Regions from separate parts of the Homo sapiens genome. Here region 1 is linked to region 2. The links come from fine-mapping of genetic effects on gene expression. Tissue or cell type: hypothalamus. Region 2 holds a variant in brackets; the other region holds the start of a gene. All regions are shown on one strand. Distances are between the middles of the regions.

The links. PIP is the estimated chance that this variant, and not a neighbour inherited with it, causes the effect.
Region 1: IRAG1 starts here. The variant in region 2 is fine-mapped to the expression of IRAG1 in hypothalamus (GTEx, PIP above 0.99). The same link has a PIP of 0.9 or more in caudate, nucleus accumbens, prefrontal cortex and spinal cord.

The regions. Positions count from the first base shown.
Region 1 is chr11:10,692,531-10,695,195 of GRCh38, reverse strand. IRAG1 (inositol 1,4,5-triphosphate receptor associated 1) reads left to right here and starts at 1,441. Exons shown (of 21, transcript NM_130385.4): 1 at 1,441-1,660. The coding sequence starts at 1,594.
Region 2 is chr11:10,713,986-10,716,829 of GRCh38, reverse strand. No RefSeq gene overlaps it. Among named protein-coding and RNA genes, the nearest start is that of IRAG1, 22 kb to the right of the region's middle. The variant G/C (reference allele first, on the strand shown) is at 1,075.

The sequences.
Region 1 (2,665 bases), 22 kb after region 2:
ATTTCTGAAAGAGGAACCCAAGGAGCTTCACACTTGGGGGTTCTAATGCACATTGAAGTTGGAGAAACAGCACTGAAGAGTTTGGTCAGTTCCTTCTAGACCATATACTTGCAATTCTAGTAGTTACCACCATGTGGCTTTGTGGGGGACGGGGGTTGTGGGGGGAGCCTGTACCTCCATGTGGACAGGTGTGGACACTTGAGAGAAAGCATGGCTAGTACCCAAGACAGCCTCCTCTGGTTTCATTTACAAAAAACAATTATTGATGAGGGTAGCGGACTTCATGCGCTGCACCCCTGTTAGTGATCTCTCTTACAACAACCACACAGAAGAGACAGGACTTCCTGAGAACCACATGCCTGAGGAAGGTGCTGGGATGGAGGCTCAGTGGGCCAGGCTCAGTGGAGAGCATCTGCCACTGCTGCACAACTGATCTGTGGCCAGGAGCTGAGCATAAGGACTGTGTTTGCCAGGAGAGCTTGAGGCCATAGGCCTGGGAGCTCCAATCCCTAGTGCTCTCTACCATGACTACTGAATGTTTTCTGGGTGGCTAATGATGGCCAAAAGCTAGGGTTCCCGGATTTATCAAACAAAAATAGAGGATGACTAATTAAATTTGAATTTCAGATAAATAACAGTCTTTAATACAAGTATGTCCTGTGTTTATCTGAAATCCAAATTTAAATGGGTGTCCTGTAATTTATCTAGCAACTTTACCTAGGGTTTCTCTGTGCTGCTCTAACCACAGAAGGGGCTGAAGTCCCCATGTGGCTTGCCCCCAGCTTGGAGCTCCATGATCCTGGCCTTGGGTAGGCCCTATACCCAAGGCAGGTGAAGAGTGTGTATGGACAGGGTATGGATTTCCTGGGCAGGGGCAGGAAGCTCATTCATACTGATCTAGCTCTTATGAGATGCTGGCAGTGTGTTAAACACTTGACTAACATCTCATTTAATCCCCTGACTACCTAGTGAGTCGGGCATTATCATTATTATTTCCACTTTAGAGATGAGGAGACTGAGGCTCCACGATGTTAAGACCACAGGCTGTTTAATGGAGGAGCAAGGTTGACATCCCTGGGGCTGGTGCCAAGTCTGGGAGTAGCTGAATCTCCCAGGCCATTCTCTCTGGCAATCCCAAGAGTTTAACGCAGTGGGAGCAGCCCCTGCCCCCGAATCCCCAGGACAGGAACCATTCCCAGTTTCTCTTGGCGCTGGCCCAGGGTCTTCTCCAGGCTCACATGCTTGCTGGAGGCTCCAGGCGGGTGGGGAGATCTGCAGGGTCCCTTTGTTCCCGTCCGGCCAGGACAGTGTCCAGTGGCACGAGTTGCCATGGGGACTGCCATCTGCTGTGTGGATACCCATCGGAGGGGCCCAGGGTGAGCGACTGCCCCAAAGGCCCAGCCTGCCCTGAGCCCTGAGGCCAGCTGGTCGGCTTTCCCTGCCATTATCCCCCGAGCCAGGCCGGAGTGGGGCTCCCAGAGGAGCTCTCGGCTCTAAGTCCCAGCCCCTCTCAGAGGAGGCGTGCGGCCGAGGTTCTGCAGCCAGAGGCTTCTCGGCTCTGAGCTCCGGAGCCAGATGTAACATTGACCTTAAATGGTAAAAGCTCCCCAGAGTGAAGAGAGGCTGGCCAGAGGAGGAAAGGAGAATAACTCAGTTTTAGGTAAGCCTCCCCTATATCCTAGAATAACCTGCCTCTTCGGCTGGGAAGCGGAGGGAACCTTCTCTTCCTTAAAGGTACAGGGTGCTGGGATGGGGGTGCTAAACTTTAACTTTCCAGGGGAGCTGGCTTTGTTGGGTGGCATTTCAGCTGAGTATCTTTATTGTTGCTGTCTTAAGTTTTAAATCAGAAGTGAATCTTGCCAGTCCTAACTTAACTAGATTGTGCTCCTTTTGCTTGCCGTTGGAAAGTGTGCACAGCTCAGGGTGAAAATGTGGGTCCTGACAGGCGATTGCAACCCCTAGCTTTCCTGTGGGCCCCTTTGTGGCAACAGTGGGGTCTTCAGCTTTGGCAAGTCTGCTAAGCAGAGCTTTCTCCCCTCTGTGCTTCCTGTGTCTCTCTCTCTGTCCCCCTACGCCCCTCTGCCTTGAACCTGGGCTGGCATGACCTGTCTAGATCCTTAAGCCTGCCTCTATTTCTGTCTCTGCCCTTCCCATCCTGTGTTCTTGTCACAGTCCCTGTTTTTATCTCTGTCCCTGTCTCCTCTTTTGTCTCCAGCTTCCCCTGGCCTGTGCCCTTCCCTGCTCCCTAGAGGGGGTGTATGTGCCCGGCCCGTGCCCGGCCCTGCTCACCTCCAGGGCTCCGAGTTGAAGCGATTCCTAGAGTGAGCACCATTTGAACTGGCTTTTTCCAAAGGAAAAGCCAGTGGAAGCCAGAGGCCAGAGAGAGGCCCAGCTGTCTTGCTCCCTCCTGCCCAGGAAACAGTTGTAAAGGCTATAGAGGCTCTGCAGTTTGAGTAAACAGCAGCCCGGGGTCTGGGACCCCTGGCCAGCACTCCAGCCTCCCAGAGCTCGGCAGCTGCTGAACACTCTTCAGGCTGCTCACTGGGGTGGCACAGGGAAGTAAATCTGGTCTGAGCAGAGTCTTTTGCAGGGAAAAGGAGGAAGCTTCCTGGGACTGTGAGGCTGGGGGTCCAAAGGAGTCAGGACCTGCCAAGGATTGTATTGC
Region 2 (2,844 bases):
GGGGCACCTCAGCATTCCTGCTGTTCTGCCTCCTGGCCCTGCCTGATGGCAGTTTGTCCTCCCCCAGTATCCCTGTCTGTTCCTATACCCGCAACCAGAGGGGAACCTGCCAGACCTGAATGTCTCTGTCTTTACAGGTCTCATCCCACCTCTGCACCAAGGGCAACCCATCACCTTCCTGGAGTAAATTATTCTTATGATTTGAGGAGTTCGTATTCTCATCTGTTTTTCTGTTTACAACATGCTAGCAGCCTTCTGCAAGTAATTGCATGAAATATTTTTTGAGAGAAGTTACAGGCATTTGGGGGATTCCAAAACTTCCAGTTCATATAAGCTCATAAGAGTCTTTATTTTTTATCTGTATGTATATATTTTTTTGCCTTTCACTGGTTAGGACAGTGGTTCTCAAATTTCCATGGGAATTTCTTAGAAAGCCTGTTAGAAACGACTGTGCCCTCCCCCACTCCCTGTCTGCAATCTGGAGTAGAATCTAGGAATGTATATTTAAAGTATGTATCAGAGGTGACCACATGTTGAGAAACACTATTTTAGGAGAAGGCATACCAATCGAACCCTGCTTTGATAGATTACTTGAAGAGGGGGAGCAATTCTAATTTCATATAATTTCATTTTTGTTTAAACGAGGGACTTGAGGAATGCAAAAGCAAAGGTAATATGAATTTTAGATCATCAGGACTTTTTTTCCTTTAAGTACATTTACAACTCAGAAAACAAATCTCTCACCAGGCTGTCTTCCTAACTAGACTTCAGGATGTCATTTGTTCGGATGAAATGGTAATTGCTTGTTTTCCAAATGCCAAGTGTTGGGCTGCTTAAGACCTTGAACAGTCTGGGCCTGGAGAGAAAAGACTCTGGTACTTGGAGTATTTTCAGGGTGTTGAAGTCCCCGAGTTGGTCTTCCCTGAATAGGTTTGTTTCTTTATAAATGGGGACCTCTCCTTGTGAATTAGGTCAAGTTAACATGGACTGCAAACTGGCTGCAGAGTCTGCTTCTGGGGTTCTGCCCCTCTTGCTCCATTTCCCGGCAGAGTTGGAAGCTCCCAGTGTGGAGGA[G/C]GGGGATACGGTAGAGAGGCAGTGAGTCACAGAAGGTGGCCACTCTCAGCAGGTCAGGGAGCAGATGGAATCAAGGATACTCCAGGGTAGCCTCCATCTTTTGAGTTGGAACTGGGCAGCTTTAAGTTTCGACTTTCAGGGTGTGGAGATGGAGACTGGAGATCCTCTTCCCCTTTGGAGAAGGTTCCCAGCACTGCAGCAGCAGAGGGAGCATCTGAGAAAACAGGCAGAGACATGAAGAAAGACATGCAAGGGGCCGAGGCCTTTCAGTCCCTGATGCCTGGTCCCCCTCTGCCAGAGAACATAAGCAACAGAGTCCATTTTAGAAGTCTCTCCATGGCTGTTATGGGGGGACTGGATTGGACAGAAGCAAGAAACAAGGAGACTAGTTGGGAGGAAGTAGAAAAAAGTATATGCTTATTGAAGGAATGAATTTTGTGCTGTGATATTAAGCTGTGGCTTTGGGTCCCTGCTTTGGGCAAAGGCCACTTGCACCATGTTCCTTGGGGACTGCGGTAGGCCATCAGACTTCTGGAAGAGTAAAACCCTTCTCTTCCTGCTCTCCTCCACTGACCCTGTAGATCTCCACTCTTCCTCTTCCTGGGAAGTCCCTGTGGCTGTAGCCCCTGAGATCCCATCCTGCTTTTCTCTGTGCTCTCTGGTGTGTTTGGAGCTCACTCTCAAGCTGGTATTAAGCCTGGTTCTGCTTTGGTGAACCCCACTTCGTTGCCTTTTGTAGTCTGAGCGTGTCTTGCTTAATAGCAAACACTATTTTTTTTCATAGCCTGTTTGGCTCACACCACATTTTTAGCCCACCAGAATTCCCACCCCACCCCTCTACATCCACATTTGAAACACAGGCAGGTAATCTCTGGGCCATGGGGTGACAGCTTACGTGCAGAGCCAAAGTGGCTGCCAAAGTCTATACACCTTTGAGGGGGTTACCCACTCTCCTCAGGCCCTTGCTGCTCTCAAGGAACCCACCACCTAGGTGCTGTGTCCCCAGAGTTCTGCCCTGCAGTTTTCCAATCCCAGGATGCTTAAACATTCAGAAAAAAAAACAGGCATTATTCCTGTCCGTGAAAGCTGAGGGAGGTCTCTAGCACCCTCAAAGCTAGCTTTTGGGCCAGGCATGGCGGCTCACGCCAGCACTCTGGAAGGCCAAGGCAGAAAGATCACTTGACACCAGGAGTTTGAGACCAGCCTAGGTGGCCGGGCGCAGTGGCTCACGCCTGTAATCCCAGCACTTTGGGAGGCCCAGGCGGGCGGATCACGAGGTCAGGAGATTGAGACCACGGTGAAACTCCGTCTCTACTAAAAATACAAAAAATTAGCTGGGCGCAGTGGCGGGCGCCTATAGTCCCAGGTACTCGTGAGGCTGAGGCAGGAGAACGGCGTGAACCCGAGAGGCGGAGCCTGCAATGAGCCGAGATCGCGCCACTGCACTCCAGCCTGGGCGACAGGGTGAGACTCCATCTCAAAAAAAAAAAAAAAAGAAAAAGAAAAGAGATCAGTCTAGGCAACATAGCGAGATCCTATCTCTATTAAAAAAAAAAAGATTTTTTTTTTTAAAAACTAACTTTTGGAGAATCTAAAGCAGGCTTAGATGCTTTGCGAAGATATCTTTTTCTTCTACTCTAGAAGAAGGAAGGAAGATCACAAAGGAAGGCTCAGATCCAAAGTGAATTCTTTGTCTAGTGCATGGTTTATTTTAAATGGGAAAGTTCAAGGTTACAAAAACAAATGATTTGTATGGGGCATTTGTGAATT